Regions from separate parts of the Homo sapiens genome. Here region 1 is linked to region 2. Evidence: fine-mapped expression QTL. Tissue or cell type: whole blood. Region 2 holds a variant in brackets; the other region holds the start of a gene. All regions are shown on one strand. Distances are between the middles of the regions.

Region 1 (8,087 bases), 230 kb after region 2:
CCTCCCCTTGGCCCTATGCCCAGATTGCATTTGGTCACCTGGACAGACTGTAGGGCTTAGACCTTGGCTTAGCTGGTTAGGATCACTTTCCCAGGGGGAGCATCCTTCCTGCTTTAGTCTCATTCTCTGAAGATAAATGGCAATATTAAGAAGCAGTGCCCAACCCCACCTCATCCCTACTGAGGCCCAGATATGATTGTGGGCAGAGAAGCCTCAGTAGGGATCCTGGCCATTTTGCAGATCTGTTCTTGAGGGCCTGCTGACAGCATTGAGCCTATCCTAAGAGTGGAATTCAGTCGAGGGCTTTACACTTACTATCTAGTCAGTTCTCCATCCAGCCCTATGCAGCAATTGCTATCCTCTCTCTCTCTTTTTTTTTTTTTTTTTTGAGACACAGAATCTCGCTATGTTGCCCAGGCTGGAGTACTGTGGCTATCCGTAGGTATGATTATAGCACACTACAGCCTTGAATGCCTGGGTTCCAGGGATTCTCTTGCCTCAGCCTCCTGAATTCTTGGGACTGCAGGCATGTGCCATCACACCTCGCTTGCTATTCTTTATCCCCAATTTTCGGACAGGAAATGGGCTTCTAGAATAAATGTAGTCAGACCTCCATTATCCATGCGTTCTACATCCATGGGTACAACCCGCTGTGGATCGAAAATGTAGTTAGGCCTAGGATGACTGTGTCTGTACTGGACATGTACAAACTTTTTTTCTTGTTGTTATTCCCTAAACAATGCAGTCTAACAACAACTTACATAGCATTTACATTGTATTAGGTATTACAGTAGTAATCCGGAGATGACTTAAAATATATGGAAGAATGTGCAGAGGTTAAATGCAGATACTGTGCCATTTTATATAAGAGACTTGATCTCAGCCACTGAAGTTGAGTTTAAAAAACAAAGTAAAAAAATATATGTAAAGGAGTTAAGTATTCATGGATTTTGGGATTCATGGGGATCCTGGAGCCAATCCCCTGTGGATACCAAGGGACAACTCTAATTTACTTCTCAAGACATCTAGCCGGGCACGGTGGCTCACACTTGTAATCCCAGCATTTTGGGAGGCTGATGTGAGGATCGCCTGAGCCCAGCATTTTGAGGCAAGCCTGGGCAACATAGCAAGACCCTGTCTCTAAAATAAAATGTGTGTGTGTATTTAGTGGGGAATGGTGGTGCATGCCTGTGGTTCCAGCTACTCGGGAGGCGGAGGTGGGAGGATCGCTTGAGCCCAGGAGGTTGAGGCTGCAGTGAGCTATGATTGTGCCACTGCACTCCGTCCTGGGTGACAGAGCAACACCCTGTCTCAAAAAAAAAAAAAAACTTACAGCTAGGGAGTAAAGGAGGCCCTGAGCAGCTTGATAGGTGCTGTGCAGCTGGCAGGGGGCGCCGTTGCCTACAGAAGGGGCTAAGCCCATCCTGAACCCCAACTCCTATTGCTCCCACTCAGCTCACTCTTAGGAGGGAGTGGCCTCGCCACCTAATGACCAAGAGGAGGTGCTGGATCTGGCTACCTAAGATCAGAGAGGTGAAGCCATCAGCCCCTATTGCCCAGAGCTTCTTCATCTGTGAGGGGGATAGTCATGGCAACCACTTGGGACTGCCCTTGGGAGATTTAAATGGGTCTAGGCCTAGCTCTGATGATCTAGGCACTGTATCCCGCACAGATGAGGAAGCTGAGGGCTCCAGAGAGGCAGAGTGAACAGCTGAGCCCCAGGGAGCCTTCCCGAGCTGAAGGCCTCACACCCTACGACGTGTGTACCTTCTGCCGGACAGTCCCTGTCTGAGGTGGCCATGGTGTCTGTGTTGAGCTGGGGATGAAGGGAGTCATGGGGGCGGCAGGTGTGATTGAGTCATTTGGCTGGCCTTCCTGGCAGCCAGGCCATGGTGGGTGAGGGACACCAAACTGCTCATGCCACAGCTGACATATCAGATAGTTCTCTTGTCACTCTTGACTCATCAGTGCCTGGCCCCTGGCTGCCTGCAGGGCCACCATCTGTGCATCCTGGGCCAGTGCCCAGGGAACTTTCTGGAACCCCAGATGCTATCTGAGGACACAAGGGTACAGGGGATGGTGAAGTTTGAGGTTCCTGAAACCCTCCACCAGGTATGTCTGGCTCTGCTGTTTCTGGCCTGTGACTCCTCAGGCTTTGGTTACCATGTCTACAAAATGGGAACAACAAATCATAGCTGAGTTTGACCCAGGGATTAGATGACATGTATGAACATGCCCGGCCATGTCTATTTTTGCTCATCATCCTGCCCCCAGCACAAGGGCCTGGCACACAGTAGGTATTTAGTACAGGACCGCGGAATGAATGAATGCATTGGGCCTTAGAACACAGCAGAGGCTCTGGGGCCTGAAGGCTGTGGTGTGAGGAGGGGGTGGGGACACTGAAGCCCAGCCCAGTTCCCTCTGCAGCATCTTGTCACCTGAGGGACGGGGAAGAGTGTGGGGTCCTACAGAGAGGAGACATGGGTATGGGGCTAGGGGAGAGGTATCTGCATTGTTCCTGAGACCTCTGCCCCACTCCTGGACAGACCACCATCCTGGAGAGAGTGGAGCAGAAACAGGAGAGGGACCACAAATTCACCTAACCTGCCCCATCCAACGAAGGATGATCATGATAAACGTGCTCTTAGTGAGATATTACTGTGTGCCCGACTTGAGCCAACTACTGTGCCTCTGCATTTCATGTTTGTTTTGTCTTATAATAACCATCAGGAAGAGGTGATCCCTGTTCTACACTGGAGAAACTGAGGCTCAGCCTAGATAAATGGACACAGGTGAAACAGCTAGCAAGGAGCACAGCTGGGATCTGAAGCCCGGGCGGACCTAGGAGTGGTTCTAGCCTCAGTTTATTCCTCCTGGGCAGCCATGCTCAGCCCAGAGAGCTGGGAGAACCAGGTGGTGGGAGTGGGGGTGTCTCAAGGTTGTGTCCTGGTGTTAATCCCTGGGGCCCCTGGCCATATCTAGCTTGTGGTGAGTGTCTCTGGCCTGTTGGAGCAGCCACTGGAATGCCTGGGGCTTGAGTGGCCCTTTGTGGTTGCAGTTCCCTTGGCAATGAAGAAACACTGCTGAGGTCAAGAGCTCAGATTGCCAGAGGGGAAACCCAGCCCTCCTTCTTTGCATGGCCCCCTGCTGGGAAGGGCCACAGCTACCCCCCACCCTCGCCCTCTGCCAGACACCCAGAGGAGGCTCTTTCCAGTGGCACAGTCATGGGGTTGGAGGGGGCACAGGCAGCCCAGCCAGGATTCCTCATGGGAAGTGTGTGGTGGCTCTTTAGACTTGCCTGCTAACGGGAGGCTCTGCCCATAACTTCCTCTTCCCACTGGAGTTCGTTCAGGAAGCCAGAACCAGCATGGGGATGCTCAGGCCTCCAAGATCCCCTAGGACCATGGGCAGGCCACCCCTCAGCCCAGCTTTTGCCTACTTTGAAGACCTCAAGGACAAGAGGGCCCTAATCTTACCGAGCCAGGCCCTCCTCAATCCAAGGCCTTCTTAGGCGTTGCCAAGGAAACTGATGCAGCAGCCAAAGAGCCTGGCCCAGGTCTCCATGACAACCTACCACAGCCCACCAGGGTCCATCCATCTGTGATGTCACCTGAGCCCCAAATGGATGCCCTCCCACCCCCACCACACTTGTCACAATCAGATGTCACAGTCTGATAGCAGGTCCCTGTCACAAAATACCTCACAGCCTGACCTGCAACCCTCAGACCCCTGAGAGATGAGCAGGGAGCTAAGACACTCCTCATGCCTTGACCACACCCTGTGTTTATGCCCCTTTTGGGTGGGGGCCTGAACCTCCAGGCCCTGGATGTGCCCTGGGTGGCTGGCTCAGCCTACAGCTAGAGGGAAGAAGGGAGACCTTGACGACTCGAAGTGGCTGGCTCCTGCTGGCATTCAACACCCATTGGCCTGGATTTCCCCAACTCTGGGCAACTTCCAGTCCAGGAGCAGAATAACCAGAGCCACGGCCAGGGCCAGGGCTGGGGCAGATTATTTATTTTTAGCAGAGTTGCTGGCAGCTGCCTGGTGGGTGCTGGGAGGTGGGATGGGGACTGAGTTTAATCCCTTCCCTCTTCTGGGCTGGGGTATCCTCCCCAGGGTTCAAGCAGGCATCTCCACCTGCAACTCTGTCAGAGCTGCCCCCACCCCCAACAGCCCTCTCAGGGCCCCCAGGGGCTCATGGGGTGACACCAACCCTCACACTGAAGGTTAGGCTCATTAGGGAGAATCTTCAACTCCAGGATGGGGAGTGGAAAGGATTTTGTGTGAATTTAGGACACCCCCTAAATTCTAGCTCAGACCTGAGCCTATGGGGAGTGGGTGTCATGGGCAGAGAAGGGGGATCTCTGTCCAGCCTGTAACTAGCTTACTTGCTAAAAGGACGAGCCGGGACTTGGGGAGAGGAAAGGGAGAATTCAGTCTCACGGGGCCAGACCGAATTCTTCTCCAGAGGGCAGTTGCTGCTTTTGGCTGATTGGGTTTACCCCGCTGCCTGCCTCCCCATCACGTACTCCCCCCGCAACCTCGCTCTCTCTCTCCTTCTCACACACACCCTCAGCTCCGGACCTCGCCTACCGGTCAGCCCCTCTATTCCCAGACAGCTACCGCTACTCCCCTGGCGGGTAGGGCGGGGTGTCGGGGATGTAAGGTCCGAGGAAGAGGGTGGGGGATTCCCCTGGTGGGGGTGGACAGACACGTCAGCCCCCGCAGCAGCGTGGACCGGGGGCGGGAGCGGGGGCGGGTGGAGGCTTAAATAGGCGGCTCTGGAGCCAGAGCCCAGTGCGGGCTGAGAAGGCGGTGGCTGCAGCAGCAGCGGCGGCGGAAACCCTAAAGTCCGAGTCCGGACTACGAGTGCGTGGCCTCCTAATCCGGATCCTAGTCCTGAGCGTGTCTGTGTGCGAGTGGGTGAGTGTCCTGGCGGAGCGGGGTCGGGGCGGCTGCAGATGGATGCGCCAGGTCCGGAGGGGTCCCGGGTGAGGGCGCCGCGACCTGGGGGCTGGGGGAGGGCTGCGGCGGGACCTCGGCCGGAGCATCCCGCCTGACTCCGGGTTGGGCAGGTGCGCCCCGGGTCCCGCCTCCCTCGCGGCTTACACGGCCACTCGGGTTCCTGATCCCCTAGACGGTCCCGGACGCGATGACCCTGAACGGCGGCGGCAGCGGAGCGGGCGGGAGCCGCGGTGGGGGCCAGGAGCGCGAGCGCCGTCGGGGCAGCACACCCTGGGGCCCCGCCCCGCCGCTGCACCGCCGCAGCATGCCGGTGGACGAGCGCGACCTGCAGGCGGCGCTGACCCCGGGTGCCCTGACGGCGGCCGCGGCCGGGACGGGGACCCAGGGTCCCAGGCTGGACTGGCCCGAGGACTCCGAGGACTCGCTCAGCTCAGGGGGCAGCGACTCAGACGAGAGCGTTTACAAGGTGCTGCTGCTGGGGGCGCCCGGCGTGGGCAAGAGCGCCCTGGCGCGCATCTTCGGCGGTGTGGAGGACGGGCCTGAAGCAGAGGCAGCAGGTGAGGGGACCCAGCTGTTCAGGGGAGGGGCGATCCCGGGGCTAGGACTAGGGGCTGAGACCGGTACTCAAAGCCGCAAATACCGTGGAATTATAGTTGTTGTTGTTGTTATTATTATTATTATTATTATTTTATTATTATTTTGAGACAGAGTTTCGCTCTTTTTCCCAGGCTGGAGTGCAGTGGCCTCGATCTAGGCTCACTGCAACCTCCGCCTTCAGGTTTCAAGGGATTCTCCTGCCTCAGCCTCCAGAGTAGCTAGGATTACAGGCGCCTGCTACCACGCCCGGCTAATATTTGTGTTTTTAGTAGAGTTGGGGTTTCACCATGTTGGCCAGGCTGGTCTGGAATTTCTGACCTCGTGATCCGCCCACCTTGGCTTCCCAAAGTGCTGGGATTACAGGCGTGAGCCACCGCACCTGGCCAATACTGTGGAATTCTATTGGCGCTTTCAGAATCATGCCTCTACCTACCCACTTCATAAATGGGGAAAGGAAAGGAGAAGGGACACCCCCCAGCCTTTGGTAGGGAAGAAATGCCCAGAGTAGAAGGCCAGGGCATAGATATGGCTACTCTGTGGGATGGGACTGGACATCCCTCCCTGCCTATCAGGGACAGGTCAGAGTTTCTAACCAGAGGGATTTCTAAGAGAGGAGCCCTAGGTGGCCAAGGTCCCCAGGGGGGGCATGTGGGTGGAGGTCAGGCACACCATGCCCTCCAGCCCCCACTTCCCTGCCTGGCACTGCTGTTGCCACATACCAGCATCTGCAAGTGGAGTGGAGGGTAAGGAGGGCTCTGGGGAAGAGTTGGAGGGTGTGGCCAGAACAGGAAACCTGGCAGCAGCGGCTTTGACAACCAGCTGGTAACCTGTCTACTGGCCTTCTGCCTAGGGCACACCTATGATCGCTCCATTGTAGTGGACGGAGAAGAGGCATCACTCATGGTCTACGACATTTGGGAGCAGGTAGGGTGCAAGCAGAGACCCAGGGCAGGGGAGGGAGGAGTGAGTTGGGTTAGAGGTCTGGGAGTGCCAGGCTCGTGTCGGGGGCATGAGGACTGTTGGGCAGATGTGTGTTGTGTGTTCTCCAGGACGGGGGCCGCTGGTTGCCCGGCCACTGCATGGCCATGGGGGATGCCTATGTCATTGTGTACTCAGTGACGGACAAGGGCAGCTTCGAGAAGGCCTCAGAACTGCGGGTCCAGCTGCGGCGTGCACGGCAAACAGATGATGTGCCCATCATCCTCGTGGGCAACAAGAGCGACCTGGTGCGCTCTCGTGAGGTCTCGGTGGATGGTGAGTAGGCGGCAGGTTGCAGGGGGAGGGAGAGCCCAGCTGGGCCCTGATCCAGGCAGTCTTGGCTCAGCTTGAGTCCCTGGGGATCATCAGAGGCTAAAAATGTTCAGAAAGAAAACTGGCGGGGAGGGAAATGGGAGAGAGCTGGTGCCTGCTCACAGGGCTCCGGAAGGCCCCAGAGGGCTGGGGAAAGAACCAAATCTGATAGGGGAGCTGGGCACCGCAGGGCCCTCCTCTCCTGCCCCTCTTGGTCCTGGCCTGGCTGGTTGGGGGGGTAAATGGGTGGAAGAGAGTGTAGGGGAACAGGCCAGGAGGTCAGAGCCTGTGTGCTAGGTCTGGGCCATTCTTAGAGTAGACTTGGCCCTGGGGAAGACCCTTCCCACTTGGCCTCAGCATCCTTTTCTGTGGACCCCAGTACTGAGCCCCTCAGAGGAACCCAGCAGTGACTTGGTGACCTTGCCTCCGCAACCCCAGTCCACTGGATCATTCATCATGATATAACCTCGAATTAAAAAATACTAAGTTGTGCGGGGCATGGGCCAGGGGGTGGCTAACGCCTGTAATCCCAGCACTTTGGGAGGCCGAGGCGGGTGGATCACGAGGTCAGGAGATCGAGACCATCCTGGCTAGCATGGTGAAACCCCATCTCTACTAAAAATACAAAAATTAGCCGGGCGTGGTGGCGGGCGCCTGTAGTCCCAGCTACTCGGGAGGCTGAGGCAGGAGAATGGCGTGAACCCGGGAGGCGGAGCTTTCAGTGAGCAGAGATTGTGCCACTGCACTCCAGCCTGGGAGACAGCGAGACTCTATCTCAGAAAAATAAAATAAAATAAAATAAAATACTAAGTTGTCCAACATAGTTCTCATTTTCCTGTGTTTACTACTGTCGTACTTTGTTTAAATATCAGGCTTCAAATTATTTCAATAAATGGATCTCCTTTTGAGGGCCACTGTTTTGGGGGCTCCTTAAATGCAGGCACTCTGCCTACTGGGTGACGCAGCAGTGCCCAGTACCCTCAGTACAGGAGCTGGGGTCTCTGTGTTTTCGGGGAGGACCTTGCAAATTCTCGAGTGGCAGCTTCCATGGGTGGCCACTGTTGGAGGGGACTCCTCATTCACCCACCCTTTGTTTACTGGTGCCTGCCTTTCCCCACCCACACAGAGGGCCGGGCCTGCGCGGTGGTCTTTGACTGCAAGTTCATTGAGACATCAGCGGCATTGCACCACAATGTCCAGGCGCTGTTTGAAGGTGTCGTGCGCCAGATACGCCT
Region 2 (8,100 bases):
GGAGTGTGACTGATGGGGCAGGAGGTAGGGCCTTGAGCCCATGATTATAGGAAAAGGGTGGGTAGGAAAAGGGTGAGGTGGGGAGAAAGAGGAGGCAGTTTTCTACTTGCTGTCTCACGGGGTAGTAACTGGGAGACCATTGAGCTGTAGGTCAGTGCAGTGGTTCCTTGGCTGGGAATTTTGCCCCCGCTGGTCCAGAGCTAGGTTTTTGTCAGAAGATGGAGGAAGGAGATACTATACTAGCACCAAGGGGCCCTGGCTTTTTCTGGACAGGGAAGGAATAGAGCAATTTGTGTTGGAAATGACTGGAGCCGAACTCCAAGGGCTTTATAACAAAAAGGAATTATTTAGCTCACATAACTGAAAAGTCCAGTGTGCAATGGCTTCAGGGACGGCTGGATCCAGGGGCCTAGTATGCTTAGGAATGCACTTCTCCATCTCTTGACTCTTTCTTTCTGTGTCAGCTTCATTCCCAGCCAGGCTCTTCCCAAGCAGTGCTAAAGGAGAGCTACCTTTTCCTTCCAGTTCAGCCCCAAGGGAAGGGAAAGTAGTGCCTCTTTCCTATTGGCTCAACCAGAGTCGCAGCGTTGATTCTCATGGGTCCAACTTAAGTCCTATACCCCGCCCTGAACTAATCACTGCAGAAATGTGAATGGAATATGCAGATTGGCCAGGTCTGGTACACAAGCCCGACCTGGAACTAGGGAGTGGGACACAGGCACATGGATTGAGAAGAGGGAGGAGGGAAGTCCCCAAAGGTAAGTCAGGCTTGGGGAGAGAATCTGGGTAGATGCAAACTACAGGTGCCCTTCGAAGTGAAGACAGGAGGTTTAGTCTTAGGCTGAGGTCCTCCAGAAATGCTGGGCTCAAGTCTACTCAGAAGGCAAGGCCAGGATATGGGTCTGGTTGGCTTTGGGGCATGGGCACCATCCAGAATGAAGATGTCTCTTGTCCGCATTGGTAAGAGAGACACACAGGCCTGAGAAGGAAGCAGAGAAGCCCCATTGCAGGATCTGCCTCTGCTCCCCCTCCACTGTGACCTTGGGCTCTTTCTCCAAGAAGGCAGTGGAGGGACAGTCCTCACTGCAAGCCTGGGGCGGGTGGGACTCTGTACAGAGCCAGGAGCTCAAGGGGCTTCCTGTGAGATGGTGAACTCCTGTCCCAAGTATGCCAACCAGTGGTGGGGACAACTGAACCATGTGGGACTTGAGGCTACTGTGGTGGGGACAGCTGAACCACGTGGGGCTGGGTAGTTGTCTCCAGGGTGGAGGGAGGGGGGATGAACTGGATACCTGACTGTCTGCATCTCCAGGAGGTGAGATGGCAGCTGGGCAAAATGGGCACGAAGAGTGGGTGGGCAGCGCATACCTGTTTGTGGAGTCCTCGCTGGACAAGGTGGTCCTGTCGGATGCCTACGCGCACCCCCAGCAGAAGGTGGCAGTGTACAGGGCTCTGCAGGCTGCCTTGGCAGGTGCGTGGATGGGCGGGCATGTGGAGAGGAAGGGGTGGCCTGGAGCATTTTGTGGGTGGGCCTGGGTTTAGCCACCTTTAAGAAGAAGATTTGGGGTGGGAGGAGCAAGACGGAGGACCCCTGGCTGTGCAGACTCTCTTCTTTGCTTGTGGCATGACCTTGAGGATAGGCGTGTGTTCTCGAGTCTGTGTATGATTTACCAATTTGTGCACTAACGTCCTTTGCTCCATCCCCGCCCCCCTCCACCAGCCGGCTCACTCCTTTCTACTAATTGTGGATGTCTCTCTCCTCTTTTCCTCTCTTACTGCAGCACTCCTTGCTCAAGACCCCTCCCCAGTACCTACCCTTCCAGGCCCCCCTTTCCCATCTCAGGGCAGAGGCCACAGGAGGCTGAAGCGGGTTGGGGGATCTGTTCGTGGCCTCAGAGCGGCGAGAGCCCCTCTTCTTCCCGAGCAGTGGGAGTCGCGCTTGGTGGAGGCCGAAGACCTGAGACCTCTCGCCCTCCTCTGCCCTGCTGGCCGCCTACCCAGACGGCTTGTTTGCCCAGGGCACACGCCCCCTTTTCTGTGCTTCGAAGTCCCTCTCTTTTGCCAACCCTCATTTGGGGCGTGAGAGCGGGGGTTAGGTGGCACCCACTCTGTCTTAGGGTGCTCCCTGTGACAGATCCTGGTCTTCTTTCTGGGTTATTGCTGTTTGTATCCCAATTTTGCTTCCCAGCTGGGTACTCTGGGGTAACTGCACCCTAGGTCAGGGGATGGGACGCGGGGCTTCACCACGGGCTTCGCCCCTCCTCCGGCCGTTTGGAGAACGGCCGAGCTTGGGGACCGCCCGGCGCCTGACCGCCCGCCTCCGCAGAGAGCGGCGGGAGCCCGGACGTGCTGCAGATGCTGAAGATCCACCGCAGCGACCCGCAGCTGATCGTGCAGCTGCGATTCTGCGGGCGGCAGCCCTGTGGCCGCTTCCTCCGCGCCTACCGCGAGGGGGCGCTGCGCGCCGCGCTGCAGAGGAGCCTGGCGGCCGCGCTCGCCCAGCACTCGGTGCCGCTGCAACTGGAGCTGCGCGCCGGCGCCGAGCGGCTGGACGCTTTGCTGGCGGACGAGGAGCGCTGTTTGAGTTGCATCCTAGCCCAGCAGGTGCGGCCGGGCTAGGGTCAGGATGGGGTAGGGCGGGGATCCGCGGTTAAGTCCCCCGTGACGGCACGTTCCATTCCCCTAGCCCGACCGGCTCCGGGATGAAGAACTGGCTGAGCTGGAGGATGCGCTGCGAAATCTGAAGTGCGGCTCGGGGGCCCGGGGTGGCGACGGGGAGGTCGCTTCGGCCCCCTTGCAGCCCCCGGTGCCCTCTCTGTCGGAGGTGAAGCCGCCGCCGCCGCCGCCACCTGCCCAGACTTTTCTGTTCCAGGGTCAGCCTGTAGGTGAGGCGCAGGTGGAGAGGCGGGGTCACCAGGAGGTTGGAGTCTGGGGAGGGGCAGGGGTCGTTGCCGGGTGGGGATGGGTGGGACCGGCGCTGGGGGTCCCCGCCCTCACCCCGTTTCCCCACTCCCTCTGCAGTGAATCGGCCGCTGAGCCTGAAGGACCAACAGACGTTCGCGCGCTCTGTGGGTCTCAAATGGCGCAAGGTGGGGCGCTCACTGCAGCGAGGCTGCCGGGCGCTGCGGGACCCGGCGCTGGACTCGCTGGCCTACGAGTACGAGCGCGAGGGACTGTACGAGCAGGCCTTCCAGCTGCTGCGGCGCTTCGTGCAGGCCGAGGGCCGCCGCGCCACGCTGCAGCGCCTGGTGGAGGCACTCGAGGAGAACGAGCTCACCAGCCTGGCAGAGGACTTGCTGGGCCTGACCGATCCCAATGGCGGCCTGGCCTAGACCAGGGGTGCAGCCAGCTTTTGGAGAACCTGGATGGCCTTAGGGTTCCTTCTGCGGCTATTGCTGAACCCCTGTCCATCCACGGGACCCTGAAACTCCACTTGGCCTATCTGCTGGACCTGCTGGGGCAGAGTTGATTGCCTTCCCCAGGAGCCAGACCACTGGGGGTGCATCATTGGGGATTCTGCCTCAGGTACTTTGATAGAGTGTGGGGTGGGGGGGACCTGCTTTGGAGATCAGCCTCACCTTCTCCCATCCCAGAAGCGGGGCTTACAGCCAGCCCTTACAGTTTCACTCATGAAGCACCTTGATCTTTGGTGTCCTGGACTTCATCCTGGGTGCTGCAGATACTGCAGTGAAGTAAAACAGGAATCAATCTTGCCTGCCCCCAGCTCACACTCAGCGTGGGACCCCGAATGTTAAGCAATGATAATAAAGTATAACACGGATTTTGATGTGAGAAATACAAGTAGTAGTGGCTTACACCTGTAATCCCAACAATTTGGGAGACAGAGATAGGAGGATTGCTTGAGCTCAGGAGTTTGAGACCAGCCTGGGTAGTCCCAGCCACTTAGGAGGCTGAGGTGGGAGGATCCCTGGAGCATGGAAGGTTGAGGCTGCAGTGAGATGTCACTGAGCTACTGCACTCCAGCCTGGGTGACAGAGTGAGACCCTGTCTCAAAAAAAAAAAAAAAAAAAGAAAGAAAAAAAAAGAGAAGTTGTGGAGGATGGAGGAAGGGGCCTAACCTGGGCAGGGGACAGGGGGTAGGCTTCCTGGAGGAGATGAGTGTGAGTAGGCATAGGGGTGGGCTATCGAGAGAAGGGCAGTGTTCGGGGCACAGTCTCAGGCAAGGGCTTGAGGAAGGCTTGTGGGTTTTTCAATGAGGCCAGTAGGAAGCCTTTGAAGAGTTTCGGGAGTTAAGACTGGGAGGTGGTTGTTTTTTTTTTTTTTTTAATTTTAATTTTTTTTCAGATGGAGCTTCACTCTTATTTCCCAGGCTGTAGTGTAATGGCACGTTTTTGGCTCACTGCAACCTCCACCTCCTGGGTTCAAGCAATTCTCCTGTTTCAGCCTCCCAAGTAGCTGGGATTACAGGCGCCCACCACCATGCCCAGCTAATTTTGTATTTTTAGTAGAGATGGGGTTTCTCCATGTTGGTCAGGCTGGTCTCAAACTCCTGACCTCAGGTGATCCACCCACCTTGGTCTCCCAAAGTGCTGGGATTACAGGCATGTGCCACCGCACCTGGCCAAGACTGGGAGGTTGATGAGGATGGGGGTGGGGGAAATGGTGGCCCCAGGCTGGGGCAGTAGCAGCAGAGATGGAGGGAAGGGGATGA[C/A]CACCAAAGAGCTGTGTGGGTGGAAGAGTAACAGGCCTGGTGACACTGGGTGAGGAATGGCTGAGAGAGGGCCCCAAGTTTCTGCCTTTGCCAGTTGGATGGTGGGTGGGACTGCTTGCTGGGATGGGGCCCTGGGGGGAAATGAAATGCTTGCTCTGTTTGGGACAAGTTGAGCATGATGTTCCTGCAGTGCATCCGGGGAGAGAGTATGAGGGTAGTTGGGTCTGTAGTTCTGAGTTCAGGATGAGGGTTCAATCTAAAGATTGATGAATAGACAGGTGGGGAGTGGGTGGGGTGGCCCCAGGGGATGTCCTGAAGGACACCAACCAGAATGGGAACAGCCAAAGAGGAAGGAGGAAAACCAGGAGATTTGGAAACCAGGGGATTACCCACCCACTATAATGGAGCGGGTAGTCAAGACCGAGGAGTGTCTGTTGGACTCAGTTAAAAGGAGCTTACCAGTCAGGGGTCTTTCTGAGTCATGGTGGAGGCAGCCCGAAGCTTTATCACAGGAGGGAATGGAAGGTGAGGCCGCGGAGAAAGCTGGAGCAGAGGACTCCTGATTACTTTGTGACCAAAAAGAGTAAGGCTCAGGGTGGAGATTTGGCTTTTTTTTTTTTTTTTTTTTTTGGAGAGAGTCTCACTCTGTTGCCAGGTTGGAGTGCAGTGGCACGATCTCGGCTCATTGCAGCCTTCGTCTCCCGGGTTCAAGTGATTTTCCTGCCTCAGCCTCCCAAGTACCTGGGATTACAGGCACGTGCCACCATACCTGGCTAATTTTTGTATTTTTAATAGAGACAGGGTTTCTCCATGTTGGCCAGGCTGGTCTCAAACTCCTGGCCTCAAGTGATCCACCTGCCTTGGCCTCCCAAAGTGTTGGGATTACAGGAGTAAGCCACCACGACTGGCCTTTTTTTTTTTTTGAGACAGTCTCGCTCTGTTGCCCAGGATGGAGTGCAGTGGTGTGTTCTTGGCTCACTGCAACCTCCACCTTCCAGGTTCAAGCAATTCTCCTGCCTCAGCCCTCTAAGTAGCTGGGATTACAGGTGCCCACCACCATGTCTAGCTAATTTTTGTATTTTTAGTAGAGATGGGGGTTTCACCACGTTGGCCAGGCTGGTCTTGACTTCCTGACCTCAAGTGATCCACTCACCTCAGCCTCCCAAAGTGTTGAGGTTACAGGCATAAGCCACCACACCCAGCCAGAGAGGTGGCTTTTTAAGATTGAACATTGGTGGGAAGAAGCCGTCAGGAGCAGATATAGCCCTTGGACAGAGGATGGGGCTGGGTTCTTAAGAGACCAGTAGAGGCTGTCTATTCCAGGCTCCACCACATGGGCTGGGACCAAGAAAGAGAGAGCTGGCAGCTGAGCTGCGCAAGGACTTAGCTCTCCATTGCAGAGCACCTCTGTCCACCTGCATCCCAGAGCAATCCTTTAGCCAAGGCCTCCGCCAGGAGTCTTCCCAAGCTGTCCCCATCCTTGCCAGCCCTGTCTGACCTGCAGCTGCACAGGCCTGATCATTTCTACCTGCAGTAGGCTATGCTGGGGACCAGGGGACTCAGAACTGCACCTGGCTTGGGCTCAGGTCCATTAGCCCCCGGGGAGACAGGCTGAAGTGCTTGCCTGTGAAATTAAAGCAGACTGGGTTGGCCCCCTGTTCTGTATCCCAGTGGATGAATGAGCGGGGCAAGGACAGATAAAATAATCCTGGCCTGAATTTCAGAAGACCTGGGGGCAGAGCTTTCTGGCCTTTGGATCCTGGGCAAGTCACTTAACTCCCCGAAGAGCCCCCCAGTGTCCCCATCTGGGCATGAATGAGAGCTGCTGGCAGAGTTGCCCTGAGGATTGGGTGGGCTGCCTTGTTTGTCCCGTGCGTGTGTTTACTGGGGGTGGGGAGCATGGCAGAACCAGGAGTAAGAAGACAGCCATGTGTCTCGGGGGCAGCGTATGCACCCTGCCTGATGGAATCAGGGCTGCTGAGGAGAGGCCCGCCCGGGATGGTGGCCAGGTTCATGCGCATTTGGAACCGGCCTGCTCAGGGGCTCCTAGCAGCCCAGGCTCCGCCCCACTCCAGAGACGCGGGAGTGGGGAGTGGATAGTTGGGGGAGCTAACCAGGGGAGTTGATGCTTCTTCCCAATCCCCAGAAAGGCGAATTTGGGGTGTGAGCACCCAGACCAGCCCTTCCCAGAGGGACTGAGAGTGAGGAGGCTCCCTCTCAGGGATTAGTCCCCACTCTGAGGCCGGAGTGCTCCTGGCGCCGGGGCGGAGCTGAGCTCCAGAAGTCTGGGCGCGCACAGCTGGAGGGTCACGTGGCACGGCACCGGTCCCCCTTCCTGCCAACGCTGCATTTGGCTCGGGCCCGGTCCATGGCGGCCCCTCGGACCCTGCGCTGAGCCCCGGAGGCCAGGGCGTCCGGGGCTGCGCCACTTCCGAGGGCCGAGCGTGAGTGTCGGGACCCCAGGGCCCGACATTGAGGGGATGGCAGGGTGGAAGGGATTCGGCCTCAGCGCGAGGGAGGCGGGCGGGGGAGGGGCCGAGGCTCCCAGTCTCCCTGCCCGGCCCTGGGTCGCAGTCCTGGGCCGGAGCTGAGGCCGCGGGGGAGTTGGCTACATGGGTGAACTTCTTGTCCCTTCAGGCTGCCGGTCCCGGCGGTGCGACACGGCCGGGAGGAGGAGAACAACGCAAGGGGCTCAACCGTCGGTCGCTGGAGCCCCCCCCGGGGCGTGGCCTCCCGCCCCCTCAGCTGGGGAGGGCGGGGCTCGCTGCCCCCTGCTGCCGACTGCGACCCTTACAGGGGAGGGAGGGCGCAGGCCGCGCGGAGATGAGGAGGAGGCTGCGCCTACGCAGGGACGCATTGCTCACGCTGCTCCTTGGCGCCTCCCTGGGCCTCTTACTCTATGCGCAGCGCGACGGCGCGGCCCCGACGGCGAGCGCGCCGCGAGGGCGAGGGAGGGCGGCACCGAGGCCCACCCCCGGACCCCGCGCGTTCCAGTTACCCGACGCGGGTGCAGCCCCGCCGGCCTACGAAGGGGACACACCGGCGCCGCCCACGCCTACGGGACCCTTTGACTTCGCCCGCTATTTGCGCGCCAAGGACCAGCGGCGGTTTCCACTGCTCATTAACCAGCCGCACAAGTGCCGCGGCGACGGCGCACCCGGTGGCCGCCCGGACCTGCTTATTGCTGTCAAGTCGGTGGCAGAGGACTTCGAGCGGCGCCAAGCCGTGCGCCAGACGTGGGGCGCGGAGGGTCGCGTGCAGGGGGCGCTGGTGCGCCGCGTGTTCTTGCTGGGCGTGCCCAGGGGCGCAGGCTCGGGCGGGGCCGACGAAGTTGGGGAGGGCGCGCGAACCCACTGGCGCGCCCTGCTGCGGGCCGAGAGCCTTGCGTATGCGGACATCCTGCTCTGGGCCTTCGACGACACCTTTTT

Evidence for each region. PIP is the estimated chance that this variant, and not a neighbour inherited with it, causes the effect.
Region 1: RRAD starts here. The variant in region 2 is fine-mapped to the expression of RRAD in whole blood (TOPMed, PIP above 0.99).

What each region holds. Positions count from the first base shown.
Region 1 is chr16:66,922,245-66,930,331 of GRCh38, reverse strand. It overlaps RRAD (RRAD, Ras related glycolysis inhibitor and calcium channel regulator), which reads left to right and starts at 4,797. Exons shown (of 5, transcript NM_004165.3): 1 at 4,797-4,923; 2 at 5,138-5,522; 3 at 6,413-6,486; 4 at 6,612-6,816; 5 at 7,979-8,087. The coding sequence starts at 5,153. RefSeq lists enhancers at 2,091-2,260, 1,978-3,177, 7,643-8,087 and silencers at 4,803-4,862, 4,993-5,432.
Region 2 is chr16:67,149,881-67,157,980 of GRCh38, reverse strand. B3GNT9 (UDP-GlcNAc:betaGal beta-1,3-N-acetylglucosaminyltransferase 9) reads left to right here and starts at 6,983. Exons shown (of 2, transcript NM_033309.3): 1 at 6,983-7,116; 2 at 7,310-8,100. The coding sequence starts at 7,496. It overlaps TRADD (TNFRSF1A associated via death domain), which reads left to right. Exons shown (of 5, transcript NM_003789.4): 2 at 1,313-1,471; 3 at 2,327-2,604; 4 at 2,687-2,885; 5 at 3,022-3,796. The coding sequence starts at 1,321. The coding sequence ends at 3,332. RefSeq lists silencers at 2,232-2,301, 2,342-2,531, 7,028-7,187, 7,198-7,627 and an enhancer at 1,464-2,365. The variant C/A (reference allele first, on the strand shown) is at 4,673.